7 separate regions of the Homo sapiens genome follow, and regions 1, 2, 3, 4, 6 and 7 are each reported to be linked to region 5. The links are microRNA targets in miRTarBase. Many come from high-throughput screens and were not tested one by one. Region 5 holds a microRNA gene; each other region holds the end of a gene's coding sequence.

The links. The annotated mature microRNA hsa-miR-7977 reads UUCCCAGCCAACGCACCA and lies in region 5 at 2,036-2,053, opposite strand. An mRNA with a match to its seed (bases 2 to 7 or 8) in the 3' UTR can be bound and repressed. Matches are read on the target gene's strand: a 7mer-m8 pairs with bases 2 to 8, a 7mer-A1 pairs with bases 2 to 7 and ends in A, and an 8mer does both.
Region 1: miRTarBase lists CORO2A as a target of hsa-miR-7977. Seed matches in the 3' UTR shown: 7mer-A1 at 2,912-2,918, 7mer-m8 at 3,253-3,259 and 7mer-A1 at 3,340-3,346.
Region 2: the mRNA of RNF8 is a reported target of hsa-miR-7977. Seed matches in the 3' UTR shown: 7mer-m8 at 2,017-2,023 and 7mer-m8 at 2,150-2,156.
Region 3: the mRNA of LONRF2 is a reported target of hsa-miR-7977. The part of its 3' UTR that is shown has no 7-base or 8-base seed match.
Region 4: miRTarBase lists ZNF546 as a target of hsa-miR-7977. Seed matches in the 3' UTR shown: 7mer-m8 at 1,316-1,322 and 7mer-m8 at 1,182-1,188.
Region 6: miRTarBase lists CAMLG as a target of hsa-miR-7977. Seed matches in the 3' UTR shown: 7mer-m8 at 1,425-1,431 and 7mer-m8 at 1,561-1,567.
Region 7: the mRNA of CCDC9 is a reported target of hsa-miR-7977. The part of its 3' UTR that is shown has no 7-base or 8-base seed match.

What each region holds. Positions count from the first base shown.
Region 1 is chr9:98,121,046-98,125,431 of GRCh38, reverse strand. It overlaps CORO2A (coronin 2A), which reads left to right. Exons shown (of 12, transcript NM_052820.4): 12 at 527-4,386. The coding sequence ends at 658. Among named protein-coding and RNA genes, the nearest start is that of TRIM14, 4.0 kb to the right of the region's middle.
Region 2 is chr6:37,389,767-37,394,104 of GRCh38, forward strand. RNF8 (ring finger protein 8) reads left to right here. Exons shown (of 8, transcript NM_003958.4): 8 at 976-4,338. The coding sequence ends at 992. Among named protein-coding and RNA genes, the nearest start is that of RNF8, 38 kb to the left of the region's middle.
Region 3 is chr2:100,280,886-100,285,228 of GRCh38, reverse strand. It overlaps LONRF2 (LON peptidase N-terminal domain and ring finger 2), which reads left to right. Exons shown (of 12, transcript NM_198461.4): 12 at 737-4,343. The coding sequence ends at 931. Among named protein-coding and RNA genes, the nearest start is that of LONRF2, 39 kb to the left of the region's middle.
Region 4 is chr19:40,015,093-40,019,422 of GRCh38, reverse strand. ZNF546 (zinc finger protein 546) reads right to left here. Exons shown (of 7, transcript NM_178544.5): 7 at 1-4,330. The coding sequence ends at 3,642. Among named protein-coding and RNA genes, the nearest start is that of ZNF546, 20 kb to the right of the region's middle. RefSeq lists an enhancer at 3,636-4,330.
Region 5 is chr3:176,512,770-176,517,155 of GRCh38, reverse strand. It overlaps MIR7977 (microRNA 7977), which reads right to left and starts at 2,053; the gene lies at 2,005-2,053.
Region 6 is chr5:134,750,387-134,754,772 of GRCh38, forward strand. CAMLG (calcium modulating ligand) reads left to right here. Exons shown (of 4, transcript NM_001745.4): 4 at 373-1,771. The coding sequence ends at 564. Among named protein-coding and RNA genes, the nearest start is that of DDX46, 6.2 kb to the right of the region's middle.
Region 7 is chr19:47,270,797-47,275,182 of GRCh38, forward strand. It overlaps CCDC9 (coiled-coil domain containing 9), which reads left to right. Exons shown (of 12, transcript NM_015603.3): 11 at 286-391; 12 at 478-1,157. The coding sequence ends at 882. It overlaps INAFM1 (InaF motif containing 1), which reads left to right and starts at 4,089. Exons shown (of 1, transcript NM_178511.6): 1 at 4,089-4,386. The coding sequence starts at 4,124. RefSeq lists silencers at 2,471-2,780, 3,391-3,650, 4,011-4,386.

The DNA.
Region 1 (4,386 bases), not on the chromosome of region 5:
CCAGAGACTGAATGTCTCTAAGCTTCCGTTTCCACGGTGGTACGGTGGGGACACTAGCACTGCCACCCTTATAGGGGTGTCACAACGTTCCAGTGGGATAACGAGGCCCTTAGGGCATCACTCAATATCTAACACCCATTCTGCACAGAGGGCAGTTTTCTGACCCCATTTTCCAGAGGAAGGAATGGAAGCTCAGAGTGGGTAAGTAACTTGCCCAAGGTCACACAGTTCAGTGGTGGCGAAAACACCAATCCCCAGACTTCAGAGCCAGGCATCCTTTCCTCTATTTCATGGAGGATCTATGGAAGCAAAATACATCTGAAACATTCCAGTCTTCTTGAATTTCATTTATTGGGTGAAGTAAACAAGGTGTTTGTAAAAGATCTATGCAGTGACAGCCCCATCAGGCCTCAGCCATGTTAATGTGACCGCCTCCACCTTTCTGAGTCAAAGAGGGATAGTGGTTTAGCTTTCAGCTGGTGTCCTGACACCATGGTGATCCTGCCTTCCGATCTTTCTTCCCCAGTTGCTGCAGATGTTCTACCGGCAACAGGAGGAGATCCGAAGGCTCCGGGAGCTGTTGACCCAGCGAGAGGTCCAGGCCAAACAGTTGGAACTGGAGATCAAAAACTTGCGGATGGGCTCAGAGCAGCTCTGAGCAGAGACCTCTGCCCTCCTCACCCTCAGGGACACCACTCGGCTCCATGGGGAGGTTTAGAACCAAACCACAAGTCCCCTCAAGGACAACCACTATTTCTATATTTTTTACCAGAAAACAAAACTCTCCATCGCTGAAAGAGATTCCAGTGGGACATGGTGCCGTTTTTCTGTTTGCCTTCTTGCAACAACAGTTTCTGAATTGACTTTGTTTTCAGATGATGCCTTCTGTTGAATTCTGTTATTAAGGGCCCATGATGAGCTGTAACTTCTCAAGAGGAAAGAACACAGTAGAAAACTAGAGCTGGAAGGATCTAGGTTGACCTGTCTGTGATTTTCAAACTGTGGTCCAGAGAATAGGGGAAGACTGGGCCAGACGCAGTGGCTCATGCCTGTAATCCCAGCACTCTGGGAGGCTGAGGTGGGCGGATTGCTTGAGGTCGGGAGTTTGAAACCAGTCTCACCAGGCGCAGTGGCTCACGCCTGTAATTCCAGCATGTTGGGAGGCCGAGGCTGGTGGATCACGAGGTCAGCAGTTCGAGACCAGCCTGACCAACATGGTGAAACCCCATCTCTACTAAAAATACAAAAAAATTAGCTGGGCGTGGTGGCAGGCGCCTGTAATTCCAGCGACTTGGGAGGCTGAGGCAGGAGAATTGCTTGAAACCGGAAGGCGGGGGTTGCAGTGAGCTGAGATTGTGCCACTGCACTCTAACCTGGGCAATAAGAGCAAAAGTCTGTCTCAAAAAAAAAAAAAAAAGAAAGAAACCAGCCTGGCCAACATGGTGAAACCCCGTCTCTACTAAAAATACAAAAATTAGGCAGGGCGTGGTGGTTCACGCCTATAATCCCAGAACTTTGGGAGGCCAAGCTGGGCGGATCTTCTGAGGTCAGGAGTTCAAGACCAGCCTGGCCAACATGGTGAAACCCCGTCTCCACTAAAAATAAAAAATTAACCAGGCATGGTGGTGCATGCCTGTAATCCCAGCTATTTGGGAGGCTGAGGCAGGAGAATCGCTTGAGCCTGGGAGGCGGAGGTTGCAGTGAACCAAGATCATGCCACTTCACTCCAGCCTGGGTGACAGAGTGAGACTCCGTCTCAAAAAAAAAAAGTTGGCCAGCCGTGGTGGTGAGCGTCTGTAGTCCCTGCTATTCGGGAGGCTGAGATAGGAGAATTGCTTGAACCTGGGAGGTGGAGGTTGCTATGAGCCACGATTGCGGACTGCACTGCAGCCTGGGTGACAGAGCGAGACTCCATCTCCAAAAAAAAAAAAAAAAAGAGAGAGAGAATAGGGGAAGACTAAGCAGGAAGGCTGTGTCTCCCTTCCCCACACTGTATTCCAACCAGACAGCTCCCTTCTATTTTATATGTTGGGCTAGTATGAAAAACAATTCTGCTAGGAAAAAAAAATTTTTTTAGAAGTTTGAAAGCTAGTGATTTGACCCAAGTTCCTCATTTTACAGCTGGGGAAACTAAGGCCTAGAGAGAGGCAAGTGATATTTGTTTCATGGCAGGGCTGGGCTGAGATCCTGCTTTTCTGGGTCTGTCTTTTTGCTCTTTTGGGTCTGATGCAGTTCTCAGCCCAAAGAGTAGAAATCTGTTGCTTCTGGCCTCAGCTGTGCCCCAGCTTACTCAGTGACCTCTTGCAAGTCCTGCCCTCTCTGGTCTCAGTTTCTTCATCTGAACCAGGGGTACCCTGGAACAAGCTGCTCTCTGCAGGATCTGCCACCTGAAACCTTGACCTAAGAGAAAACTACCTGTGGGGTGATCTGGGTTTGCTACAGAAACTAACGGACACTGGCAAGGGGTCAGAGGCATTCAACCCAATTCTACAACACAGGCAGGTGGTCAAAACCAACCTTTCCAACCAGAATCAGCCTGATATGGATAGATGCTGTCCCTTATGGAGGGACGCAGACTTCAGAACTGTGCCCATGACTGCTGACTGCCACCACCAAGGCCCTCAGGTACACAGCCTGCCTCCTGCAGGATGATGTGGGCAGATTTCAGCCCTAGTTAACAGAAGAGTCCCCCAGGAGGTAGGGGGCCCCCATCACTGGAGACATGCCAGCAGAGCCTCTGGCCACCTAACCAGGAGGTCTTCTGAAATGACTATACGAGGTAAAGAAGTAGTACCAGATGGTCCCAAAGTTCCCTTTTAGCCTGAAAGCTTTTCTTTGTCCCTCCTTAGTGAATCTGTGTTCCGAGCCCTACTCTAAAGTTCAGTGGTCAATACAATAGTCCACCAAGAGACTGGGAATGATTAGAAGTGAAATTGGTCCCTCCTTACCAAGGAGGGGCAGATGATCTCCATTGCACAGGGCGATTAGATTCTGGAGCTGAGGTGGGGACTGCAGGAGGCCACCTAGTCTGGTAGGTTTCAACCCAAGCTGTGTACATTAGAATTCCCTTGGGAGCGTGCAGGAAATACAGATGCCCATGCCACATTCCAGACCAACTGAAGCTGAATCTCCAGAGTAGGGCCTGTATGGTCATATAAGCTCCACAGGTGATCTGCAGTACAGTGAAGATGGAAGACTGCATGTGTACCTATTTGCAATAAAGATGAAGAGGACAGCAAGCTCCAGACAGGAGCTGGGACTCAACCCAGATCTCTTAAGTCCTGCCTGGTGGCTCCTTAAAAGTCCAGAAGTGTTGCCCCAAGCCCTCCCTCAACATCTCTGGGAACCGCAGCTGCAGCACGATGGGGGTTCAGTGCCCCTGTTTGCCCCTTACCCAGCTGTGGTTTATTCTGCTTGTATGTCTGCACAGGCCGGATGCTCGTGTTCCTTGTCTTATTCTCCATTTACTCAGTCACTGGGGCTCACTCCCGTCTGATGCACTAGCCAAGATTGCCTTAGTGTGCTCCAGAAAAGAAGGCCAAATCCCAGGCATTGTCAGGGCAGCAGAGCTCTACAGGATAGGCTTACCTTTCCCACCTGTGTGGCTAGCACTTCACAGTTTACAAATTCCTCCCACCTCCACTCAGTGACACATGCTGTTCTAACACAGGTCAGGCAGGCATTACAGTCCCCATGTTCAGAATCAAAGACCTAGCCTCAGAGAAGTGAAGAAACATCATGCCAAGGTCATTGACTGCCAAGCGGTAGAGGTGGGGTTGCATCCAGAGAGCTTCCCGGTATGCCTCTGCACAATGCCATTCCTTGGCCAGCTCCCTCCACCCCAAGGGACCCAGACTGCACACTTAACAAACAGGACACAGGTGTCTTTGAACAAACTTTTTTGTATTATTATTTTTACATCTAGAATAAATTATTTAAATTATTTCACAGCAAGGGAGAGGGATAGGTAATTTTTATCAGATATTTTTTTAAACCATCTGTTTTTTAAATTACATTTTTGTTTATGTTCTTGAGCTGATGTAGTGGAACTTGCCTAGCACATTCAGGTCCCAGCCAGTTGGCAGAGCATGCTCTCATCTCCTTATTCCATACCCTGGGCGTCCCCTTTCTGTTGACTCAGGAACTTTCTGAGAATGAGGACAGCACTAGGAGATGAGCTTTGGCAGGTATCCACCTTAACGCTACAATAATTGTGCTTCCTGAAACAAAACTTGAGATTGTATCATAGAAGGAAACAGGAAGTCAGAAATCAAATCTATGCTTTTAATTGAAACCGTGCCTGAAACAGTTTGAATGATTGTTTTAATGTTGTTTCTGAAATTCCTTGTACCTTTGTGAAAAATAATGATAATAAATAAAAGTGAA
Region 2 (4,338 bases), not on the chromosome of region 5:
TTCTTCTGTGAGCTAATAGTTGAGGCTGTTAGCTAAGAGGGAGGGAACCCTACTTGGTTCTCTCTCTCCAAGGCTGAGGGCATGCCCAGCCCCAAGGCCCACCACCTCAAAGGCTACCCAGAAGTGGGAGACGAATAACTTCTGTAGTCCTTTCAATCCCCCTAACAAAGCATTCCAGAATTCAGTCTCAGAGAAAGGGGACAATTTGGTTGGTGACTTTATTGTGCCTTTGGCATAGGCCAGGATTCCCACAAGGAAGCGGACTATTGGAAAAGCCTGGAGGCTAGTAAGTAAACAGCCTTTCTTGTCCCCTCCCTCTCTGAACACAGGAAGAATTCCCGCCTCTCCCTGCCTATTCCTGTATATAATTCATTCCTTTCTTTAACATCTTTAACAGATATATTGAGGGCCAGATTTGTGCTAGGCACTGTTCTAGATGCTGAGAATGTAAAAAGTGAAAATCTAAGTTAGATGTAATTAATGCTATGGAGAAAAATCAAGCAAGAAGGGGAGAAGGGGTGATGGTGAAAGCCTTGGCAATTCTTGATAGGGTAATCAAGGAAGGCACCTCTGAGCAGGAACTATTTGAGGGAAGCTCTGAAGGAGGTGGCCATGCTGCCATGTAGGGAAAGAGGGAATGGTAAGGGGGAGCATGCTGGTATGTGGGAGGGGCAGCAAGGAGGCTAGTGCTGGGGAGTGGAGTGAGCGCTGGGGAGTGGGTAGGAGAGGAAGCTTGAGCAAGACGCAGATTTTGTAGGGCCTTGTAGGCCTTTGAAAGGACTTTGACTTTAACTCACTGTGAGAGGAATGAGGAGTGGGCTTTGAGCAGAGAGTGACATGATCTGACTTCTGTTTTCTCAGTTCGCTATGGCTGCTGTGTGAGGAAGAGACAGGGTGGCGAGGCTGGAAGCAGGGAGTCCACGGAAGGGAAATACAGGCTCCTCATTTATTTATTTCTCTTCTTTTTCTCCAAAGCAAAGAGATTGTTCTGAAGACCGTGCTCTAAGGGCATTTGAAAGACTGCCAGGTAGTGCGAGCCTGAGATGGTCTGGAGGATTCTCTCTAGCCGTGACTCCGCTGCTCTGAAGGTCAACTGAGAAGTCTTGTGGGACAGAGACTTGAGTTAGGAAGCCCTCAGTCACTTGCCTTCCACGGTGGCCAGCCCTGCTGCCATCATTGGCTGAAGCACCACCAGGATTCACGGCACCCAACTGCTTCAGGGTACTTCGTAGACTCTGCCTCACTACATGTCGAAAGAGTTATTTGAGTTCTCTTCTGTTTTTTTTTAATTTGTTGTTGTTGTTACTGTTTTGATACCTCGGAAACACCTCCGTTGACAGTTGTTTTGGATAGGTTGGGTGTACCCCATGGCTGCCTCTGAAGGCAGTGTCTATTTTGAGAGGATGGCTTACCTCTTCTTTGTGAAAATACTATCTCATTTCCTGGAAATAAAATGTAAAACCTGTCAGTTGCTCAGCTGGGCTTTGGTGTATTTACCTTCCTTCCCTTCCTGCTCCCAGACAGTCTCACAAGTAAACACCAGCAGCTCATAGATTACAACCAAGAAAGTGACTGTATCAGATGATAGACTTCAAGTGAATGTCAGCCTAAGAGGCCAAGCTGCAGATCGTGGCAACAGATGAGCTCTGTTAACCTCCTGACTGTCGTGTTTCCTTTTTATTACAGAGGTGGGTCACTGTTTACCTTGTTTCAGGGGTGGGAGAAACTCCTTTCCTTCAGCTGGCATTTGAATGTTTCCAAATCTATTTTATCTGACGTCATGAACACACAGGCAATGATTTTATGACAACTTGATGTGCTTTTTTCTTTATTTTTCTTTTACATTAGAAGTTTTCTCTCTTTTCTCCACCTCTCCTTTATTTTTAATTTTAATTTTAATTTTTGAAACAAGATCTGACTCTGTTGCCCAAGCTGGAGTACAGTAGTGCAATCTCAGCTCACTGCAACCTCCACCTCCCAGACTCAAGCCATCCTCCCACCTCAACCTCCCAAGTAGCTGGGACTACAGGCATATGCCATCACACCCAGCTAATTTTTGTTTTTCTGTAGAGACAGGGTTTCACCATGTTGGCCAGGCTGGTCTCAAATTCCTGACCTTAAGTGATCCACCTGCCTAGGCCTCTAAAATGCTGGGATTACAGGCGTGAGCCACCACGCCCAGCCTATACCCCATGTATTTTCATAAAGGGTTGGAAACTATTGATTGCCAACTTTTTAAGGATGGTAGGGATTTTTTCTTTGTTGAATATACTGTGAATTTTGGGATTCTGGAGTCCTTAGTCTTCATTTCCATTCTTCTGCCCATGATTACTGATCAAAATACTGGTAGAGTCATGGAGGAAGTAAGTTAAATGTGGAAAAAATGCTTTAAAAGTACTTACTATAACCACATCATAAGAATTCTGGAAAAATAGAGAACAAAAGGAAAAGATTGTTACCACCTTGATTTAATAACTTCTTGTTTCCCCATACATGTGTTTTGTTTATAGATTGCATGGGTATATGTCAATTTTTATATGTTCTGTGTTTAGTTTACATATTGTAATTCATTTTTAAGAGAGTACAGACATACACTTTTTGAGTAGGCAATATGTTCACATAGTTTGAAATTAAAGGTACAAAATGGCGTAGAATGAAATGCCTCTCACCCTTTCCCCACAGCGACTACTTCCCACTCAGAGGCAACAAGTATTACAGTTGCTTGTATATTCTTCCAGAGATCTCTGTCTATACAAGCAAAAACACATGTGGTCTTTTTCCTTGCTTTGCACAAATGGTAAACTGTACGCTATTCTGAACCTTGCTTTTTTCAGATATATGTTGGCAACAGTTCCATGTCAGTACATAGTTTCCTTTCTTTATTACAGCTGCCTGTTTTTTCATTGTGTATTTGCACCATCATTTACTTTTCTGGCTTACTTTTGATAGAAATCTAGGTTGGTTCAAACCTTTTTACTCTTAAAACAATGCTGCAGTTAACACCCTTGTACATATATCTTTAGAGAGAAGATATTTTAAAAAGAAATACCTTTTTAAAAATTATTTTATTATTTTTTAATAGAGACTATGTTGCCTAGGCTGGTCTTGAAATTCTGGGCTAAAGCAATCCTACCACCTTGGCCTCCCAAAGTGCTGAGATTACAGGCATGAGCCATTGCACCTGGCCAAGAAGAGACATCTTGACTTGAGCCTGAAGACTATGTACAGAGACTGACCTCACAGACTGACCATTCCATCCCACAGCTGCTGGACATAGAGTGATTTGCAGCCCCTCCTTTCAGAGTACCACATCCCTCTCAAGTGTTCCACAACATCTAGGAAAGTGAGCTCTTAAAGACAGACTAAAAAGAGTAATAAATCAATACAACAACATTAAAAGCCAGACTAGCGGAGTTTGAATCTTGGCCCTGCTGTTAGTAACTGTGTGAGCCTTGGGCAAGTTACTCAGCCTCCTTGTGTCTTGGTTTTGGTTTCTTCATCTCTAAGTAATTATATCTGTCATTATTGCCCTGATCACAAACAAAAGCCTGAATGTACTATGTTTAAAAGACAAACCAAAAATTAACCCAAACTTGCATTATTTGTCTGAGCTACAGAATGTTCTTTCCTTGGAGAGATATCTGATATTAAACATCATCTGCATTTTACTTGCCTAGAAAATACACGGTAACTTTTCTGCCTTGCAGCATCAAACTATAGTACAGCTGAGCCCCAGTGCTGTGCAGTCTGACTCTAATTAAAGGCACCTTCTTTACAGCAGGGCTCTGGGGAACTGGAAAAGGGGGTTTGTTTCATTATCTGGTTTTATTAAGCAGATGAATGCAGCCAGCTATATGAAGCACTTTGCAGTGAATGGCAGGTGTCCCATATCTGGTTATGTTAACCTAGAAAGGGCTCACTCTACCTCTAGGCATGTTTCATCCCAACAATCAGACTGTGCCAAAGCAGGGGACTTTGTCCTTTGTGGATTGCATAGCTGGATACCCATCATCTGTTTCTCTGATTGGAAGCTGCTGTTGTACAGAAAGACCTGCATTTCCCCCTTGTCTCCAGTTCTCTCACTACTTTTTCCTCCTCTGTGAGTGACCATCCAGGCAGTCACCATAACTGCTGGAGTGTCTGGGATTGGTAGCTCTCTCCAACTGCCTGCTTGCTCTTTACAGCCTCTCTCTGTGACTGGAATCTCTCCACCTCATCGTATCTAAGGATAACCCAGAAACATGGGGTGTCCTAGGTATGTTTATCTCGACACTGAACCCCCTAGGCTTCTGATGAATCCAGTGATTAGCTAAATTTGACATAGAAAGTAAGAAGGAA
Region 3 (4,343 bases), not on the chromosome of region 5:
ACTCCAGAGTTCACCCTCCCAGCTCTTATCGGCATCCTGCACATTTTTGGAGAAGGAATAGAGTGAAGAATCCTAGACCCTGGAAACAAAAAGGCCTGGATATCTTGGTTCCAGTACTAAGAATATTGAGAACGAGTTTATGATCGGCTTTTGCCTAGCACTTAGTCTAGAAGTGCTTTGTTTGATTATGTGAAATAAAGGTTATTTGGTGGCATAATAATTCTTATATATATAATTTATGATAACTCTTGCATATGACATGCATACATATATATGTTTCATACATACACTCATTTGCCACATTGAGTATGTCACTCAAACTTGTACACATACTTTTAGCCTTTATAATATTATGCTTTATATGGCATGCTTAAGACATAAAAAATAATAGCACAGAACATTGGAAAGTGAAGGTTAAAGTGATAGTATTCTCCTCTGACTGGTATATACTCTTAACTGAAAGCTTGAGAGAACAGAAGCAACTAATTCATAGAATCTCCCCATGGAAGATGCTTCTCTTTGCAGGCTCTTCCTTTTGTGAGTTCCCCCACCTTTAAATGTGTACCATAAAAGTAAACTATGTATTTTGAGAGCTGAATGAATTGTGAATTAGCCCTAAAATACAAGGTGGCATTTAATTCTTGCTCACGTGTCTGTTGGTGGAGCAAAAGACTGTGTTGGGGAACAGGCTTGCATTTCCAGTGTTAACCTTGCTTTCCCCTCATCTCTTTTGCAGAGTAATCCCAGCGGCCCTGCCTGGTCCTGGTGGATCCTGGCCGTGCTGCCCCTGGAGCGCAAGGCTCAGCTGGCCATCCTCGGCATGACCTCGCTCAAAGAGCGGCTCCTTGCCATCCGACGGATATTAGTCATCATCACGCGTAAGATGAATAGTCGGCAAGAGCTGGCTAATGCCAGGGAGAGAAATAATTGATTTTTCTCTCTGTCAAGGTTTCTGGCAGCCCTTGTGCTTTTATAAATGTCAGGCATGGACGAATAGCCGTCCATTCATTGTGCTTCATCAAGTGCTTGTGGATGAGGTTCCAAAATGGGACGCTTGCCAAACATTGAGTCCTCCTCAAAAATGACAATTCTGTGTCTGGTGGGATCTGACCTTGTGTGAGGTTAGCCTGAAGTCTGAATGGAGCCCATAGTTGGAAAACAACCTAAGAAAATCTCTTAGAAGCAGGTGCTTGGGGAATGCAGTTCACTGACAGCACAGGACCCTGCAGATGGTTTACATGTGGTTTGGGTTTCACGAGAAAGAAGGATTCACTTCCCAGTCAGCATCTGGCTCTGCCAGATGGTAAAGGCGTGCTTTAGTGTGTAGACAATATGGGGGAACCACGTTTTTATCTGGAAGTGGATTTCTTAGAACACAGGCTAACCAAAACTACGCTTAGGCTTTGCGTGTTGCTGTGAAGTTGTCTGTGAAATCGAATAATCACACCATTGTTCAGTGCAGGAGCCCAAACTAGTCCTTACCCAAGAAGTAGTAGCCTCTGGATAGAACTGTGTTTAATGTCCTGTTGTAGTCCCAGGTGTTGTAAATTGCATGTTGTAATCAAACGAATGTCAAAACATAAGAAAGTATACCTTGGATATAGAAAAACCTGAGAACAGTATCATTCACTTGAGGATATATATATATATATTTACACACAATAAAGTGAGTTAAAATTGTATATGCATTGGGATGTCAAACATAAAACCACCAAGTGCAAAGAATGCTTTGAAAGTAGAACCTTGTCTCATTGATCAGTGGTTACTAAGCATTTAGGAAACAGTCATCTTTTTCTATTGGGATTTGCATTAGAAATTAGCCCCATCAGTAAATTTCAGTTTACTATCCATTTATTAATATACAAAAACATTAAAAAATCTGCCATGCCATGGTAATCTATCTATTCCAGGAAAATAGATCAGAATATATGAAGGGAGGATGGCCGGTATGGGATGTAAATATTCAGTAAGTTTTTCTCCAACACCAACCTAAAATTATCTTTATTTTTTTGAAAGAAAGTTTTACGGTGATCAGACCAGGTGTTATCTGTTAAAGGACAGTAGTATGACTTCCATCCTGTAATGCACGTTGGTGATATTGATTGGAATAACTGAATCTGAGATACTCATATGTTCTCTCTGGCCCAACCAGCTGGTGCATTTGGTTGGCTTCCTCGTCTGTAAGGTGGACATTCTTAACCAGAGGGTCACGACCACATCACAGCTGCAAGTTTTGCTTTGTTCATTGAAGGTGATTTTTTAGTTTTAAAATATATATATCTCATAATATACAATGTTGATGGTATATCAATCCATCAAGCATTTTATTAGAAAGACTTTATAATATTATTAATTTTTCTTTAGTTTTCAGTAGATAAAGTAGTTTCAGTAGATAAAGACTTTATAATATTATTAATTTTTCTTTTAGTTTTCAGTCTCATCATGGGAGTTAGAAAATACCAGCATCACTTAATTGTAAAGAGAAAATGTGAAAGTATTTTCCAATCCAATGTTTCAAGTGCCTCACTTATTGTGAATCTCAAATATCATCTTGAGATGGTTTAATGGCAGTTTGGCCAAGTGATTTCTAAGAGATTTTATTAATTTATGCATTAACAATAGTATTCAACTTTCTTAGGCATTATAACCTAACCCGATCATTTGATTGGAATAACTGAATCATTCATTGATTGGAATAAAATAAAGAAAACAAAATGCATCTCACATGCCAGAAGACCTTTACCAGAAGTGGTTCATGAAAATCAGTATGCATTGACCATTCTCTGCCTTTCCCTTTTGGAAAATTTTTTTGTACCTTCATATCACAGCTGAATAGTTATCAATGCCATTTCCATTTGGAAGTATCTAAATAACCACAATGTGATCACAGCTTCTCCACGAGCCTTCCTGAAGTAAAGCTGGTATGCTTGCTATAATACTTGGAACCTGTTGCTTTCTCTTCCTCACTCTTTAAATGTCATAAGGTCACACAGTTCTTGGAATCAGAACTATTCAGTTATTTCTTCATGATTCTGCCTGGCTTTCTGAGTCTTCTCCTTCGGCATGTTATGTAAAAGTCTGAACAACAATGATGACGCAGACGAGAGCAACATACGTTTTTATTTTTTGATAGGTTTTTATTTTTTTGATACCAGAGGGAATTAACTATGATCACATCGTGCTCTCTCTGTTCAGCATCACACGCCCACATACTGCAGTGTGGGAGTAGATTGGTACTTACTGAGCACTTAGAAACATCACGCATCAGGAACCGGGTCAGGGTGACAGCATCCTACGGTCATATCATGAAGGAAGCCTCCCTTACAAACCTAAAAAAAAAAAACCCCAGCTTCAGTTTGCTACCAATTAAGCTAAAGCAGAACGGTCTGCTTCCTCCTCCGCCTGCCCCCTTCTGCCTCTTTTCTGTTGGGGAGATGCCAATTCTAAGGATTTCTCAGAAAATAATGTAATCTCTCATTCAATGTCAGGACATTCCAGCTTAATTGTACTGAAAGTGCTCCAATAGGCATGCTCTCGTTACATTGGAATCAAAGCAGAAAAGAGTAATAGCAGCGTGGGGGAGTCATTTTTCTTCTTGAGGAACAATACATGCTGTTCTGTATTTTTCCATTCATCGCCCAAACCTGCCTGTGTCTTTGAAATGCAAGTAAGATCCCAAAGGCAGCTTTCTGAAAGCCCGTGGCATTTTTAGCTTATCCCATCCCCCGTGTGTGTCCTCATCTTCAGAATTGAAAGTTAGGATACTTTTTAAAGTTTCAAAAGAAAATAATTTAAAATGTTAAGGTTTATCCATAGAAACACAATAATTCTTAACCAATTCATGTACCAAATTCAACAGTATTATCTCATTTTTAGGGTCACAAATGTGTCCTTTTTGCACTTAAACCTCCTCCCTCTCTCAAAAACAAAAACAAACAAACAAACAAAAAACACACCAAGACTGTTTAACAAATTGTATCTCAACTCTTAATATATGTTAAGTCTTACCACAGGACATTTGAATCATCAAGGAACAGTTGAAGTTTATGGATGGTAGAATAACAATGAACTATGATATTATCACTTTATTATAAACTTTTTGGAAAATTGGCAGTTGCTACCATCGAAATACTCCATTGCCTGTGTTACATAGAATTTGTTATAATTTTTAAGGGCTTTAAAAAAATACCCATCTGTTTCTTCTCCTTCTTGTTTTCTTTTGTGCCCCACCACTTAAATTACTTGGGTAAATACCACTCTTCAAAATTTGAATACTGTCTATCAAATAAGAAGAAGTGTGAAAGATATGAAGAAGAAAGGTGATAGCAAATTAGAAGAAAATA
Region 4 (4,330 bases), not on the chromosome of region 5:
CTTTTAATGATCCTCCCTTCTTTCTTATATTGACTTATTTTTCCCTTAGTTTCTTGAGTTTAATGCTTCTTCATTCTTTTAACAGTTTTATAAGTGATTACTATGTTAAAGAGACAGTATTAAGTCACTGGGAGTAGAGTGGTGAGCAGGAGAAACAAAGTGCTGGCCCTCAATATTTGTTTCCTGAATATATTAACAGGTTACTGATTTTTCACTGAGCACAGGTTTGGCCACATTCACAAATTCTGATCTTACCATTCATTTCTAAATTGTCCTTTATGGTTTCATTTTCTTTTTGATCTAGTGTCATTATATTATTGGAGATTTTAAATTTCCGAAATGCCAAAGTACTACTCTACAGATCGTTTACTAAATTAAAAGAAATATTTAGCTCTACAACAGAGAAACCTGGTGATTACCATATGAAGCAAGTATTTCAGTTACCTATCGCTGTGTGGCAAACTACTCCAAAACTTAGTGGCTTAAAACAGGCCATATTTTAAACGTAAATCTGCAATTTGGGCAGGCTCATGGGGGAAAGCTTTTCTCTGCTCCACTTAGCACCAGCTAGGATAGCCTGAAGGCTAAGGGTTAGAATCATCTGAAGGCTCATACCCTCATACACTTGGTGCTGGATCCCGGCTGTTACCTCAATTACAGCTGTAATCAGGACAGCTTTACTTAGCTTTTCTATGTGATTACTTGGCATCTTCATAGCATGGTGGCTGGGCTTCATCCCAAGTGGGTCAGGCAGAAGCTGTATTGCCTTTTATGACTTAGTCGTGGAAATCACAGTGTTATTCCTGCCATAAACACAGGCCCACCTGGCCAGATTCAAAAGGAAGGACCATGAGCTCTACCTCTTGGGGAGTGTTGGTATCACATTGTAAGATGAACATGCAGAATGGGATATATTGGTGTGGCCATCTTTGGAATGTATGTTCTGCTACACCAAGTGAATGAACTAAGGATACCATAGTGGTATAATGACATTGTATGCCACCTAATGGGTTACAAATTGAAATACAAAATTTCTCCCATTAAGTATTCTTGCCAAAATATTTAATCTGTCCCTAATTGGGTCTCTAATCCCAAATTCCAGTTAATGGGAAATACTGGGGATAAAAAAGCACATTTAAAAATACTTTGGGAAGGCCGGGTGCGGTGGCTCATGCCTGTAATCCCAGCACTTTGGGAGGCTGAGGCGGGCAGATCACCAGGTCAGGAGATCGAGACCGTCCTGGCTAACATGGTGAAACCCCGTCTCTACTAAAAATACAAAAAATTAGCCGGGCATGGTTGAAGGCGCCTGTAGTCCCAGCTACTGGGGAGGCTGAGGCAGAATTGCCTGAACCCGGGAGGCGGAGCTTGCAGTGAGCCAAGATCGCACCACTGCACTCCAGCCTGGGCGACAGAGACTCCATCTCAAAAAAAAAAAAAAAAAAAAAAAAAAAAAGTCAATGTTGCAATAAAGTTGTGGGGGGAAGGGCCATTCTTACTTTAAAAGAGACGAACAATGCACAAATGTAATTCATGAATTTGGTTCCTGAATTTAAAAATAACCTATGAAAAGCATTGTTTACACAAATGAAAAGAATGAACACAACTGAGAATATGAACACAGACTGAATATTACAGATTATGGAATTATTGCTAATCTCCTTAGGTGTGAAGTTACTGGGGGTCAAATCTTTTGGCTTCCCTGGGTTACACTGGAAGAAGAATTATCTTGGGCTACACATAAAATGTGCTAACAATGGCGGATGAGCTTAAAAAAAATCACAAAAAAAATCTCATGTTTTAAGACAGCTTACAAATTTCTGTTGGACTGCATTCAAAGCTGCCCTGGGGCACAGACAGGTTGGACAATTGTTATATAGCAATTAAGTAGGAGGCAGCCTTTATTCTTAGATGTGATGTGTTATAGTATCTGCAATTTATACTCAAATACTACAGCAAAATATGTAAATATTATGTATAAGCAAACCAAATGTGACAACATATTAACAATTGCTGAATCTAGATAGAACATAACTGTTCATTATTCTTTTAAGTTTTCCAAATGGATAGTGGCTGTTTTTAATTTATCATTGTGGGCAGAAAAAGCGACTGACATACCTGCTTTTTGGGTTATAAAAAGAAAAAAGCATTACAGCTATCCCTGAGTCTTCAAAACTTTACTCTCATAATCTTCACACCCATCAAATCTAGAGATTTCTTTCTCACATTAATTTTCAGAGATAGGTTCTGACTTTATAAATGGAAGTTTAATCTATTTTACTGGATATTATCTCCAGTTAATTATTCCAATCTAAATAAGGAGTGAAAGGTAATGGACAGTTTTTACAAATTTCTTACACCCACAGGGCCTTCCTCTCACATGAATGTACTAAATGTATCCCCAATGAAAAAAATAAAGCAATATTTATTGATAAAATGCTGTGTGCCAAATACTCTTTTAAAGGTTTTATCTTTTATTAGCATTTCATCCTCACAAAAATACTATTAGGTGGTACTGTTATTACCATTTTAAAAACCAAGGCACAGGGGCATGTTTTGCCAAACACCACATAGGCAGAGGTGGAATTATGAGAATTATATTATTTATATATATCATAAAGATAGGCCAAGGCTGGTCTTTCCCATGTTCATTACATTAACAGAATCATTTTCCGTTACAGTGCTATATAAAGTGTGGTCCATGTGTTGACACTGGCCCACAAATTGTTTGCTTCTGGTCTCTGCAAAAGTTATAGATACCAAGAGCAAGTATTTAGAAATGTTTGCAGCAATCTGACAGAGTTAACTCAGTTAAATACCATAATAAAAAACTGGGGCTTTTATTTTGTATGTCTGTTTTTTTCTTTTCATTTTTCTGGTAATCTATTTATTTATTTATTTAAGAGACAGAGTCTTGCTCTGTTGCCCAAGCTAGAGTGCAGTGGTGCGATCTCAGCTCACTGCAACCTCTGCCACTTAGGTTCATGCAATTTTCCTGCCTCAGCCTCCTGAGTAGCTGGGATTACAGGCACCCCCCACAATGCCTAGCTAATTTGTGTATTTTAGTAGAGAAGGGGTTTCACCATGTTGGCCAGGCTGGTCTTGAACTCCTGACCTCAGGTGATCTGCTCACCTGGGCCTCCCATAGTGCTGGGATTACAGGTGTGAGCCACTGTGCCTGGCCCGCATTTTATTTATTTATTTAGAGACAGGATCTCACTCTGTCACCAAGCTGGAGTGCAGTGGCACAATCATGGCTCACTAAAGCCATGAGGCAGGGTCTCACTATGTTGCCCAGGCTGGTTTCGAACTCCTGTCTTTCCACAGTGCTGGGATTACAGGTGTGAGCCACTTCACCTGGCCCATTATTATTGCATTTTAGAGAAGCACTGTTCAACAACAGTTTGTAGGGGAAAAGGCCCTTGATGGTTTGGGATGCAGTGCATCAGTATCAATCTTCTAAAGTCTAACAGGGACTGAGTGATGCTATAGTCTTTCGACTCTTTAACATACGAAATAATTTCTGATAAATTGTGAGCATGAAGTAAAAGGGATTCCCACATGTTCCGTAACAAACAGAAAATTTCTTAAATTACAAATTCTCTGCTAAAGGGCATTTTCTAAAGGCCATCGTATTCTCTTTACATTATGCATAGGACTTCCTCACTAATATGATTTCTCTGATGTAAAGTAAGTTGATCACTACGAATAAAGGCTTTTCCACATTCTTTACATTGATAGGGTTTTTCACCAGTATGAATTCTGTGATGTCGAGTAAGTTCTGAATTAACACTGAAGGCTTTCCCACATTCTTTACATTTATAGGGTTTCTCACCCGTGTGAACTATGTGATGTCGAGTAAGTTCTGCTTGAAGACGAAAGGCATTCCCACATTCTTTACAGCTATAAGGTTTCTCACCAGTATGAAGTCTAAAATGTTGAGTAAGATGATACCGACGACTAAAGGTCTTTCCACATTCCTTACATTCATATGGAAGCTCACCAGTGTGAATTCTTTGATGTAATGTAAGTCGATAACTGCAAATAAAAGCATTCCCACATTCATTACATATGTAGGGCTTCTCACCAGTATGGCCTCTGTGATGTTGAGTAAGATGATAGTGCCGACTAAACGTCTTCCCACATTCCGTACATTCGTAGGGTTTCTCACCAGTATGAATTCTGTGATGTTGCGTGAGATGAGTGCTACGAATAAAGGCCTTCCCACATTCTGTACATTTATAGGGTTTTTCACCAGTATGAATTCTGTGATGCTGAGTAAGTTCTGTTTGAAATCGAAAGGCTTTCCCACATTCATTACATATGTAGG
Region 5 (4,386 bases):
CTTTACATGTGCTGATGAGTCTTTTTATTCTTTTTTGTAAATTGTCTATTTAATTTTTTTGTTTAAGTTTTTATTGAGCTTGTTGTCATCTATTTGGTTCTTTACATATTCTGGATGTAAATGCCTTATCAGAAACATATTGCAAATATTTTCTTCCAGTCTGTGGATTATCTTTTCATTCTGTCAGCTATTTCTTTAGAAGTACCCAAGATTCTAATTTTGATGACCAATTTGACTATAGTTTATTTATTTTAATGGATTGTGGTCTCAATGTTATATTTAAGAAATTATTGACTAGCCAAGGTCAAAAAGATTTTCTCCTGCATTTTCTTCTAAAAGTTTTACAGTTTTAGCTCTTACATTTAGATCTTTGATCCATATTGAGTCAATTTGTGTGCATAGTTTGAGATAAAGGCCTAAATTTATCCTTTCTGCATGTTGGATATTCAATAGTCCTAAAATTAGTTGTGGAAAAGACTGTCCTTTCTCATTGAATTGGCCTGGCAAATTTTTTGAAGAAAAAGTTGACACAATTAGAAGGCTTTACTTCTGGACTCTCAGTTCCATTACCTTATTTATAGGCCTATCTTTATGTCAGTACCACACTATTTTGATTTCTATAGCTCCATAGTAATTTTATTTGTTTGTTTGTTTATTTATTTATTGAGACAGGGTTTCGCTCTGTCCCTGGGCTGGAGTGCAGTGATGTGATCTAGGCTCACTGCAACCTCTGTCTGCCAGGCTCAAGCCATCCTCCCACCTCAGCCTCCTGAGTGGCTGAGACCACAGACATGTGCCACCATACTTGGCTAATTTTTGTATTTTTTGTAGAGATGGGGTTTTGCCATATTGCCCAGGTTGGTCTTGAACTCCTGAGCTTAAGTAATTCACCTGCCTAGGCCTCCCAAATTGCTGGGATTACAGGTGCGAACTGCTATGCCTGGCCTACAGTAATTTTAAAATCAGAAAGCTCTTTTTGTTTAATTAACGAAACTTCTTTTAAGACAACGATAAGCTTTAAACATTTTCTTTTTTATATTATCTCTCTCCTCCAGTTTTTGTTTTGTTTTGTTTTGTTTTCCCAGTACTTTTCTTTCACAAAAGAAGCCTTCTTCAACTGTTAATTCTTGCTTATCTTCTCACGTTTAAAGACGGAGATTTTAAAAACTGTTTGAAGCTCTGAACGCATAGGTAAGACTGGTATACTTTGAGCTTCATTGCAGGATGATGTTTCAACTATAGTCACTGTTTGAGCATAAGTCAGGGAATAATTTATAAAATATTTGGCAACATTAAAATAATATGTCTTCTTTACTGGGAGAAATCTGCCACTGATTTTCTAAGCGAAGAAGCAGAAAGCACATGGGAAAAAATGATGTCACTGCCATCTTGACACGTTTGAAATCACAAATTATAGAAAAGTTGTATTCCTGATCGAAGAATCACTAGTATTACAGGAGTTATTAAGAAATTATTTTAGGCAGCAAGAGAGGGGAAAAGAGTCCTTGGTAAGGCTTTTTCTTTTAATAAAAAAGCAAGCCCCAAAACATTTCTTTTCTAACAGAAAGTGGCCTGAAAAACCAGACCTGCAAGCATTGATATGCAAATGCTGGTGGCTAGAAGCCAGGTCCAACCAATATGGTGGTTCCCGTGACTTTTTCTTTGTTGCCACGTATGCAGAACATCATGGTGACCAGCCAGGTAGCCATATGTGCATATTTAAAGGCTAGGGTGGGAGAGCTGGCTTTTTTGCAGGCTATGTGAATGACACACCTGGTCAAACCAATCCCCTGGCTCCTATGCAAACCAAACACCACGTCGTCCAGCCTCCCAATATAACCGACTGCTTTCTGCTACATGTGGGGTTTTCCATTTGGAGCCCTCCTCCCTCTGTATGAGGGAGCTGTTTTCTTCTTTCTTGCCTATTAAACATTCCACTCCTTAAACCACTCCACGTGTATCCGTGTCGCTAATTTTCTCCGTGCGAGAACAAGGACCTTGGGTGTTTCTCCAGACAACAGACCCATATCATTTTTGGTGCGTTGGCTGGGAAACCAAGGTACAATATCCATTGGGGTTGGTGAGCAGAAGAGCAAACTCAAAACCTGTCCTTTCATTCCGAGGCTCTTGGCTTCCATTTTAAAATCAAATCAAATCAATAACAGCATCTGTCAACCATCTAGATATGCTTAGTGTGGCTGCCATTCTTAAAGACTCGCATGTCAGCCTTGCTGGGGAGAACATGAAGACCCCCCTCCCTCCAATACCCTGGGTCATTGGGAATGTTGGCCGTGCTTCAAACCAGCTTTTCTGTTCATGGGGAAAATTAGCCATTGCATAAGGCGGGGAAAAGTTCTGAAGCAACTGAGAATTTCTGGCCAGGGCATTTCCTAGTGTTATTCAAAAGCTTCTGGACCGGACTCAGCCTCCAGCAGCCTGCCCAGGTGTTGGTAAAAGATCCCCAGTTATCCTGTCGCAAAACTTTTTTTCTGTTTCTATCCACGGTCGCTATGCCTCTTATTCTCTTTGTGTGTCGAATGTGTGGGAATTTTTACAGCCTAGGGAAGTAATCCTGTTAGGCAAGATCAGGAAATGCTGTAATAACCGGGGCTATAGCTCAGGAAAATGCTGTTGCAATCTTCTAGGAACAGAGGTCTCTGAAACCCCGGTTGTGAGATGAGTCCCTACTATGCTGCTGGTGGCACATAGTATTCCTAAGCCAACAGCGCCACCTAGTGGAAATAGACACCCTCTTCATAAGACGCATTGCTTGTCCGCTACAGTCCACCGCAGCTTCCTAATTTTTCCTTTTTGCCCCTTCCTACTGGAAACCAGGCTTTATGCTGCTTCTGTGAACAGGAAAATTCTGCCTTCAACAATTAGGAGTAAATTGTCCTCTGCAGCCAAATTTGAGTCCTGATCCTGTCCCATCAACAGGAAAGTCACGATTAGGCCCCCACATCCCTTTAAGGAAACTATTCTGTCTCCAATAAGACAGTCCTTAATTAGTAAGGGGATTTTAAGTCTGAAAGTTAACCAGAACCATTTTTCTAAGGGTTAAGGCTTTAACACGGGCCATAGTAGCAGGCAATCTAGCACATTCCCTCCATTAAAGGACACTTGCCTTTTATATAATCTTTCCCAAGGTCAATTTTTTTTAAGGGAGGCACACAGGTCACACAAGTCTAGGAAGTCAAAGGGAAATCACAGGCAGAGGACTAGAGCTACTTGAATGAGCATGACTAGCCCCAGTTGCTTGGTTTCTTTGGTGCCATGGCTTGGAGGGTCACACATACAACCATGGGCAGCACATTTAACAGGGTGCTGGGACCCAGGAACCAAGGAAGGAAAACAGTTGGGGGGACGCTCCCACTGTCTTCTTCTCCACTCTGGGTTATACAGAGAGAGGAAGGAGACAAAAGAGACACCTTTTTCTCACTTCTCTTTCTAGATGGGTAACAGATCATGTTCAGCATGTACTCCCCTGGAGTATATTCTAAAGCACTGGGACTGCTTCAACCCTGAGACTTTGTAGAAAGAGCACCTCATATTCTATGGCATAAGGGCATGGCCTTCTTACCATCTTTAAGACAGACAAACCTGGCCTGCTGGGGGGAGCCTTCATTTTAATACTGTCCAACAATTAGATATTTTCTGCAGATGGAAGGACAAATGGTCTGAGATACCCAATGTACAGGCTTTCTTTGCCCTGCGAGACGACCCAGACCTTTACAAGCTTTGTACAATTGACCCAGTTCTTTTAGCAGCATGACAGGCAAGCCCACAAGGAATAGTCCCCCAGAGCTAAAGCAGATTCCAGAGGAGCAATCTGAGACAGCTATTGAATGTCTCAACTCAGTTCCCCTCATCCAGAAGCCCCTCCAATCATACCATCAGGTCCTCCAGGTCCACCATCTCCAGTATTACCCACTTTCCCCACTTCATTCTTATCTCTGCAGGAAGTGCCTGATGAAAATCGTGCCATGAGGGTTCACGTTCCCTTCTCATTACAGGACCTTAAGCAATTAAAGGGAGACTTAAGCAGATTTTCTGATGACCCCAATAAATATATAGAAATTTTCCAAAATTTAACTCAGGTGTTTGACCTCACATGGAGGGATGTTATGTTGCTCCTAAGTCAGGCCTCACTGAAGCTGAAAAGCAAGCAGTTCTGCAGGCAGCAGAAAAATATGAAGATGAACAACATCTCCTATGGCAGACCAAAGAGAAAAAAAGGAGATAGGGAAGGTGAAGAAGTAATGGAAACTCCATTCCCACTAGGAAGAGAAGCAGTTCAAGTAGACAACCCTGATTGGAACCTCAATAACTCAGCAGATAAATGGAAAAGAAAGCACTTTTAAATGTGCATATTAGAGGGCCTACGAT
Region 6 (4,386 bases), not on the chromosome of region 5:
AATTAGCCGGGCATGGTGGCAAGCACCTGTAATCCCGGCTACTCAGGAGGCTGAGGCAGGAGAATCGCTTGAACCCGGGAGGCAGAGGTTGCAGTGAGCCGAGATCGTGCCATTGCACTCCAACCTGGGCAACAGAGCGAGACTCCATCTCAAAAAAAAAAAAAGCAAGACTGATGTCTGCTATTGCCTAGCAGATTGATGAGTTACATATTATATGCTCAGTAAATGTTGGTATCTTACTGATTGTTTTGAAACATCATTAACAGTTTTTAAATCATTTCGGTTAAAAACAGCAGTACTGATCATGTTTGTATAGAGCTTAATGTAGCCTGCTGAAACTTTGAAGATTAATTTGAGTCTTTCTCTACACAGAGTGAAAAGAAGATAAAGACAACAGTACTAACAGCTGCACTTCTATTGTCGGGAATTCCTGCCGAAGTGATAAATCGATCAATGGATACCTATAGCAAAATGGGCGAAGTCTTCACAGATCTCTGTGTCTACTTTTTCACTTTTATCTTTTGTCATGAACTGCTTGATTATTGGGGCTCTGAAGTACCATGAAGCCTGTAGAACTGAGAAGGAGAAGCTTACAAAAAAAAAAAAATCCTCTTCTATATTGCAGTGTCTCTAAAGGAGGCAAATTGGTTTACACCTTCATGTAATTCTTTTACTTTAGGGGTTGTAAAGCTACTTTATTAGATATAGAATGGCAGATTCTCTGATTTAAAAGGGCTGAGTTTGTATTATTACTGATATGAAGAATAGAGTACCAATGTCATTAATTGATTTTTCTTGTTAATCAGAATTCCTATTCTGTACCTTTCCTCTAACTTCTCAGATTTGTAATTCTTCTTTTGGGAGCTGAGCTAGTGCTTTTAGGAGAACAGATAAATGTGGTCTCAGCCAGCCCTAGAGACTGCTTCTTGTGTTTGTGTCATTCTGTCCTGAGAAATGAAGTCATCTGAAAAATAAAATGAAAGAAACTGAATTGTCTAATGTTAACTCTGCACATTGTAACTTTTCTTGTTGAGTTAGTATCTTAATTTTTACTCCAGCACAAGTATTTAATCAAAGAAAAGATTCATACATGTGAAATTGGAAGGTATTTATAAAATTTTTATTGCTGTATACCAAACTCAGAATTGGAACTTTTTACATTTGAGTTTCACTTTTTAGAAGTATGTTTTAAGCAAGCAAAAACAAAATGGGATGTGAAGAATTGAGGCATGCAACCCAATAGCATAAATGTCCTTTTTCCCCCCAAATATGGTCTAGATGAGTTATTATAAACATTGTTTTTATTTTTTTGAGACAGAGTTTCGCTCTTGTTGCCCAGGCTAGAGTGCAATGGCGCCATCTCGGCTCACCGCAACCTCCACCTTCCTGGTTCAAGGGATTCTCCTGCCTCAGCCTCCCAAGTAGCTGGGATTACAGGCATGCACCACCACGCCCAGCTAATTTTTATATTCTTTAGTAAAGACAGGGTTTCTCCATGTTGGTCAGGCTGGTCTCGAACTTCTGACCTCAGGTGATCTGCCCACCTCGGCCTCCCAAAGTGCTGGGATTACAGGCGTGAGCCACTGCACCTGGCCTTATAAATATCCTTTTAACTAACTCAGTAACTGCCATATTTTGTTGGGTTGTCTTCTTAAAAGAATATAAGACTAAAGTGTTAATGTCACTTGGTGTTACATTTCCTTACAGATTTTTGTATAGTCTAATTTGGTTAATCCTTGTGACATTAAAAACACATACACTTTTTAAAAAATTACTCTTTAAGTCTTGATTTCTGTCATTTCATTTTGAACCAGGGTAATGAAGAATAATTTAAGTCTATTCTTCTGATTTGGGTGAAAGATTATAAGCACACATTTTTCCTGATTCCATAATGAATCTAGTATCTAAAGGGTTGTAAATCATCCTTAAAGTTGTCACTTCCTTAATCGCTGAGAAGATACTAGTGGTCTTCAATTGCACATTGCACATGTTTACTCTTTTGGTGCTTTTTTTTTTTTCCAAACAGTGTTTACCACTGTTGTCCAGGCTGGAGTGTAGTGGTAGCACAATCATGGCTCACTGGAGCCTTGATTGACCTCCTGGGCTCAAGCAATCCTCCTGTCTCAGCCTCCCAAGTAACTGGGACCATTAATGCCTGGCTAATTTTTTGATTTTTTGTAGAGACAGGATCTTACCATGTTACCCAGGCTGGTCTCAAACTGGGCTCAAGCAGTCCTCCTGCCTTGGCCTCCCAAAATGCTAGGATTACAGGTATGAGCCATTGTGCCTGGCCTACTTTTCTTTCTTAAAAAAAAAAAATCATTTAGCCAGCTGACACATGCAAAATTTTAGTAATTGTAGATCATTATCAAATTTATATTTTGAAGACAGTTATAAGATATCTGTATCTATTGGTGCCATTTTTTGTCTTTAACTGATAGGCATCTCCCTGATCATTTGCTTGATTTGTTGAATAATATCAAGTAGAAATGAAAGTTTTTTTTGTTTGTTTGTGTTGTTTTTTTTTTTTCTGAGACAGAGTTTCGTTCTTGTTGCCCAGGCTGGAGTGCAATGGCACAATCTCGGCTCACTGTAGCCTCTGCCTCTGGGGTTCAAGCAATTCTCCTGCCTCAGCCTCCCGAGTAGCTGAGTTTATAGGCATGCACTACCACGCCCAGCTAATTTTGTATTTTTAGTAGAGACGGGGTTTCTCCATGTTGGTCAGGCTGGTCTGGAACTCCAAAGCTCAGGTGATCCACCTGCCTCGGCCTCCCAAAGTGCTGGGATTACAGGTGTAAGCCACTGCGCCCGGCCTGTTTTGTTGTGTTTTGTTTGACAGTTTCACTCTGTTGCCCAGGCTGGAGTGCAGTGGCATGATGTACAACCTCTGCCTCTCAGGTTCAAGCAGTGCTCACGCCTCAGCCTCCTGAGTAGTGAGTAGCTGGGATTACAGGCATTGCCACCATGCCTGGCTAATTTTTGTATTTTTAGTAGAGATGGCGGTTTCACCATGTTGGCCAGGCAGGTCTCAAACTCCTGACCTCAAGTGATCTGCCTGTCTCAGCCTCCCAATTTGCTGAGATTAAAAGTGTGAGGCCGGGCGTGGTGGCTCACGCCTGTAATTCCAGCACTTTGGGAAGCCGAGGCGGGCAGATCATGAGGTCAGGAGATCGAGACCATCCTGGCTAACACGGTGAAACCCCGTCTCTACTAAAAATACAAAAAATTAGCCAGGCATGGTGGCAGGCACCTGTAGTCCCAGCTACTCGGGAGGCTGAGGCAGGAGAATGGCATGAACCTGGGAGGCGGAGCTTGCAGTGAGCCAAGATCGTGCCACTGCACTCCAGCCTGGGCGACAGAGCAAGTCTCTGTCTCAAAAAAAAAAAAAAGTGTGAGCCACTGCAGCCGACCTGAAAGTTTCTTTTTTTTGAGACAAGGTCTCACTATGTTGCCCCTGTCGGAGTGCAGTGGCATGATCAGGGCTCACTGCAGCCTTGCTTTCCCAGGCCCAAGCAATCTTCCCACCTCAGCCTTGCAAGTAGCTGGGACCACAGGCATGTGCCACCACCCCTGGCTAATTTTTGTTTTGTTTTTTTCAGAACAGAGTCTCTGTCGCCCAGGCTGGAGTGCAGTGATGTCAGTCTCAGCTTACTGCAGCCTCTGCCCGCCCCCCGGGCTGGTTCAAGCGATTCTCATGCCTCAGCTTCCCGAGTAGCTGGGATTACAGATGCATGCCACCACATCTGGCTAATTTTTTGTATTTTTAGTAGAGACAGGTTTCACCATGTTGGCCAGGCTGGTCTCGAACTCCTGGCCTCATGTGATCCACCCACCTTGGCCTCCCAAAGTGCTGGGATTACAAGCGAGAACCACTGCGCCTGGCCTGGGAATTGAAGTTTCTTAGTGTTTGGAATAGTTTAAAACGTTTTTTATTTGGAAATTTCTGGGTTTTGAAATGTATATGGACTGGCTGGGCACCATGACTCATGCCTGTAATGCCAGCACTTTGGGAGGCCGAGGCGGGTGGATCACTTGAAGTCAGGAGTTTGAAACCAGCCTGGCCAACATGGTGAAACCCTGTCTCTACTAAAAAAACCAAACCAAAACAAAAAAAAATTAGCCAGGTGTGGTGGCGGGCGCGTCTGTAATCCCAGCTACTCAAGAGGCTGAGGCATGAGAATCACTTGAACCCGGGAGGCAGAGGTTGCAGTGAACTGAGATCGCGCCACTGCACTCCAGCCTGGACAACAGAGTGAGACTCTGTCTCAAAAAAAAAAAAAAAAGGTATATGGATTAAAACTAGAGGGACAAGGATGGTTGTTTAGAGGTGACATCTTGACCATGTAACCTAGTAGTTTTTTTAGTTCAATTAGTTGTGTAAATGGA
Region 7 (4,386 bases), not on the chromosome of region 5:
TCTTGGCCCTGTCTATCTCGCAGGTCCGTGGTTTGAGGGGCTTGGGATCTGGCTCTTGGTTTTACCCTCATCTGTCCCCTTTCTGCCGTCACCCATCTCCTCTCCTGCTACCTGCCCCACTTTCGTTCTGTCCTTGACACATGGGGACACACATCCGCCATTCCCTCAGCCCTCCACCATGCCAGATGCTCTGGGCAGCTCCTCCCTAGGGAGGGTGGAGGCAGGAAGCCCCTTCCTCCTGTCTACTCTCCACCCAGGCATCACCCCTCCCTCTGTTCCCTCTAGTGACCATGATGACCGCTGGGAGACAAAAGAAGGGGCAGCATCCCCAGCCCCTGAGACTCCACAGCCTACTTCCCCCGAGACTTCCCCCAAGGAGACACCCATGCAGGTGAGGCTGGGCTGTGGTTCAGGGCACGGGCCTGGGGTGGGGGCTCAGGACCTGTGCCTTGCCCTGACTTGCCTGTGTCCCCAAAGCCACCCGAGATCCCAGCTCCTGCCCACCGGCCTCCTGAAGACGAGGGGGAAGAGAATGAGGGGGAAGAGGATGAAGAATGGGAGGACATAAGTGAGGATGAGGAAGAGGAGGAGATCGAGGTGGAAGAAGGTGATGAGGAGGAACCAGCCCAAGACCACCAAGCCCCAGAGGCTGCCCCCACCGGGATCCCCTGCAGTGAGCAGGCCCACGGAGTCCCCTTCAGTCCGGAGGAGCCCCTGCTGGAGCCCCAGGCCCCTGGCACGCCTTCCAGCCCTTTCTCACCACCCAGCGGCCACCAGCCTGTGTCCGATTGGGGTGAAGAGGTGGAGCTGAATTCTCCCCGGACCACTCACCTGGCTGGCGCCCTCTCCCCGGGTGAGGCCTGGCCTTTTGAGAGTGTATGAAGCTGGCTGCCTGTGTGTGTGTGTGTGTGTGTGTGTGTGTGTGTGTGTGTGTGTGCGCGCGCGCGCGCGCGCGCGCGCGCGCTAGAGGGGTGTGGCTGGTGGGGGACCCTTGGGGCTGGGCCCTGGGACCCAGTGTGCCCCACAGCCCTGTCAGCTGAGGGGGTAGCGCAGCCCATGCTCTTCTGTACTGTCATGCCCGTCTCTGGAATGTCCACTCCCAGAGCCTGCCCCAGCCCTTCGAGCCCCCTCCCCAATAAAGAATTCACATCCTCCAATGACATTCCCCCAGGTGTGTCCTTGAACCCCCTTCAACTCCCCCTGGGCCTTCTCTCTTGGGGTGGGGAGATGTCAGGCGGGAAAGGGGGCTTGACTGGGGCTCCCCTTCCCTAGGAGGTGGCCAGTCAGCCCCTGCCTTCCCGGAGAGTGGGCCCAGCCTCCGAGGAACCCAGGAAGCTGAAGAGGAAGGGTCTGAGGCAACTCCAGGTGGGGGAGTGCATGGGGCATGGGATGGAGGCCGCTGCTTCCTCTTTCTCTGGGGCTGAGGGGCAGAGGGCTTGGGGGGAGTGGGGTGAATGTGTGTAGGTAGCAGTTGGACCATAGAGGTGAGGTGAAAAGGGTGAGCTCGGATAGGGATGGGGGGCTGGAGCCGGGTGGCAGGGGTGGGGCAAAGGGGCAACTTTATGGGCCAAGCCAATAGGAATTTGGTATGGAGGTTGAGGAGGTGGGGTTAAGGAAAGGATTAGAATTTTGGAGTCGAGCTCAGGGGTTTTGGAAAGCACTGGTTTAAGAGTAATGGGGTGTGGATCGGATGCCTTGGCTCATGCCTGTAATCCCAGCTAATTGGGAGGCGGGAGGATCGCTTGAACCTGGGAGGCGGAGGCTGCAGTGAGCCGAGATCGCTCCACTGTACTCCCACCTGGGCGACAGAGCAAGACTCCGTCTCAAAAAAGGTGGTTGGCGTTGGTGTACTAGGGCAGGAGCTATAGGCAGACTACGAAATTTGAACTGGCTCGAAAAGGCCAAAGAGATGGGCAAGGGCAGAAAACTGGATTTAACTGTGGCTGGGATTAGAGTTCCGAGGTGCAACCTAGTGGGGCAAATTAGAATAGACATGCGTACCCGATCAGCATTTTGGGACCGACGAAGTGCGAGCAAGAGGCCAAGCCCCTCTCCACCTACACTCCGTAGGAGTAAGATTTCGAATCTCAGATGGCCTCCCCTTCCCCCAGAGTGGGATTAGGATTTTGGGGGCAGAGCCAAGGAAGGACTGGTTAGAATAGCAGGCGTTGGCGAAGGAAAGGGGAGGGCGGGTCCTCTAGGACTGGCTTGGTGGAGGTTGATGAAGGCCGTGAGATGGGGCGGGGGTGGGAGAGGACAGTTTGCAGCCTTGGGTGGCGCGGGGGCCCAGACCCTCTGTCTTGGGCCACTTGTTGGTCGGGAGCCAGATCTCGCCACACCCGCGTTTCCTCGATTGTAAACGGTTATGTTGGGAGTGTTTGCTGCTGCGTGGGTCCGCTGAGAGGATTAGTCTGGGCCCCGTAAACCGCTTAGCGCCGAGCCTGCTGTGGCAAGGGCTCGAACTGGATGAGAGACGTGGCTAGACGGGGGAGGGGTGCTGGGCCGGGGGGGAGGTGGGAAGACTGCTCCCCTCCGCTGACTCAGCCCCTTCTCTCCTCAGAGGCAGGCCCCGAAGGCCAGGAGACGGCGGAGATCACCGACTTCCAGAGGGTGCGTTTCTGCAAGGTGGTGGCGGCCCCTCCGCTGCCGGGGGCCGCTCGCTGACCGCGCCCGCCGGACCGCGGCCTCCGCGCTCTGCACTAACCTCCCACCGCCTCGCTCCTCTGTCCTCTGCTTCTGCCACACTCCAGCCAGGAGAGGGTTAAATCTAAGGGGGGAGGAGCCAGGGTCTGCGAGCCGGGCGGGGCCAGGGCAGTAGTCGGGTGCAGGCCCCACCAACGGGGGACGTCACGGCACTGGGACGGCTGGGACGCTTCCGCGTTAGTCTCCCATGGAGGCCCTGGGCGGCTCGAGCCAGTCTTCAGGCCGAATCTCCCGCCTCCAGGATTGCATCCGAGGCCTGGCAGCCGGTGACACTTCCGAAGGGCTTGAATTACTCGGGCGCCAGCCCTGTCGTATTAAACGCAGTGCTTCCGCTCACCCTTGAACTGTGTTTCTGGAGGGGGCAGGCTGGGTCGCTGTGCTTGGCGGGCTTTTCTGTGGCGGAAGAGGCGGAAGGAAGGGGTCTTCCTCCACCCTTCTGATCCGTCTTCCCTCCCCCCTCCCGCAGGCCTCCCCGAATTCCTGAAGACGCTGCTGGGAGGGGACTGAAGCTTCCCCGCCTTGATGGGGAGGGGGCGTGAGGAGGGGTTTATCTGGATTTCCAGGCTGTGTTCTTTCTACCCCAGAGCCTAGTCTGGACCCCTTGGCTCTAGGGAGAGGGAAAAGCTGACCGTTGGGGAGGAGCTGGGAGAAGGGGCGCGATTGCGGTGAGGGGCGGAGCTGGAACCTCGGGGCCTGAGGTGCTGAGGATACCTGAAAGCGGGCTGAGAGTGTGCTGGAGGAGGCGGGTCCCGCGGGGGCGGAGCTAGGCTGCCTGGGCGGGGCCGGAATCCTGACAGGCGGAGTTAGAGCGGGGGGCGGGGTCAGCGCGCGCGGGTGGGGCTCTGGCCATGGGCATGGGGCGGGGCCGTCAGCGGGGGCGTGGTCGGGGTGTCGCGCGGGAACCCGCGCGGGAGGAGAGCGGGGATTCCGGAACTAGAGTGTGGGAGCCAGAGGCCGTAGCGGGCAGGGCTCGAGCACTGGAGTAGAGCAGTCCGACAGGTAGAGAAGTGAGACTGGCTGCGGCACAGGGCGGGTTAGGGCTCCAGGCAGGGCTTGAGCGGGACGAGGGGGCGGGCTCCGAGGCGGGCTAGATGCCTGGGCTGGATGAAGTCCGAGTCTGGGAAGAGAACCGTGTTGTGGCGGGAGGAGGCGGTGATTGGGGTGGTGGGGCTAAGCGCGGGGGCGGGGCTGGAGCGAGGGGGGCGGGGTAGCACCTCCGCCTGTCGGTGGTGGGGCGGAGGCTGGAGGGGGTGGGCCTAGGATGCGGAGGCGGCAGCTCGCGTGGGGGCGTGACCATGCTGGCGGGGGCGGGGCCGGAGGCGGGCGGTTTAGAGAGCGGGGCGGTCTGCGGGGTGGGGGCGGGGCCTGGTGGGGGCGGGGCCTGTGCGGTCTGCGGCGCGGAGCCGAGTGGGCTGCGGGGATGCGGGGGACCAGCTGCGTGGGCGGCGGCGCCGAGAGCCCCGGAGGCGCGGGGCTGAGCGAGGGCCCGCGGGGGCGCTGGCTGCGCTTGGCTCCGGTATGCGCCTACTTCCTCTGCGTCTCGCTAGCTGCCGTGCTGCTCGCCGTGTACTACGGTCTCATCTGGGTACCCACGCGGTCTCCCGCGGCACCCGCCGGCCCACAGCCCAGCGCGCCGTCCCCTCCGTGTGCTGCCCGCCCGGGCGTGCCGCCTGTCCCGGCGCC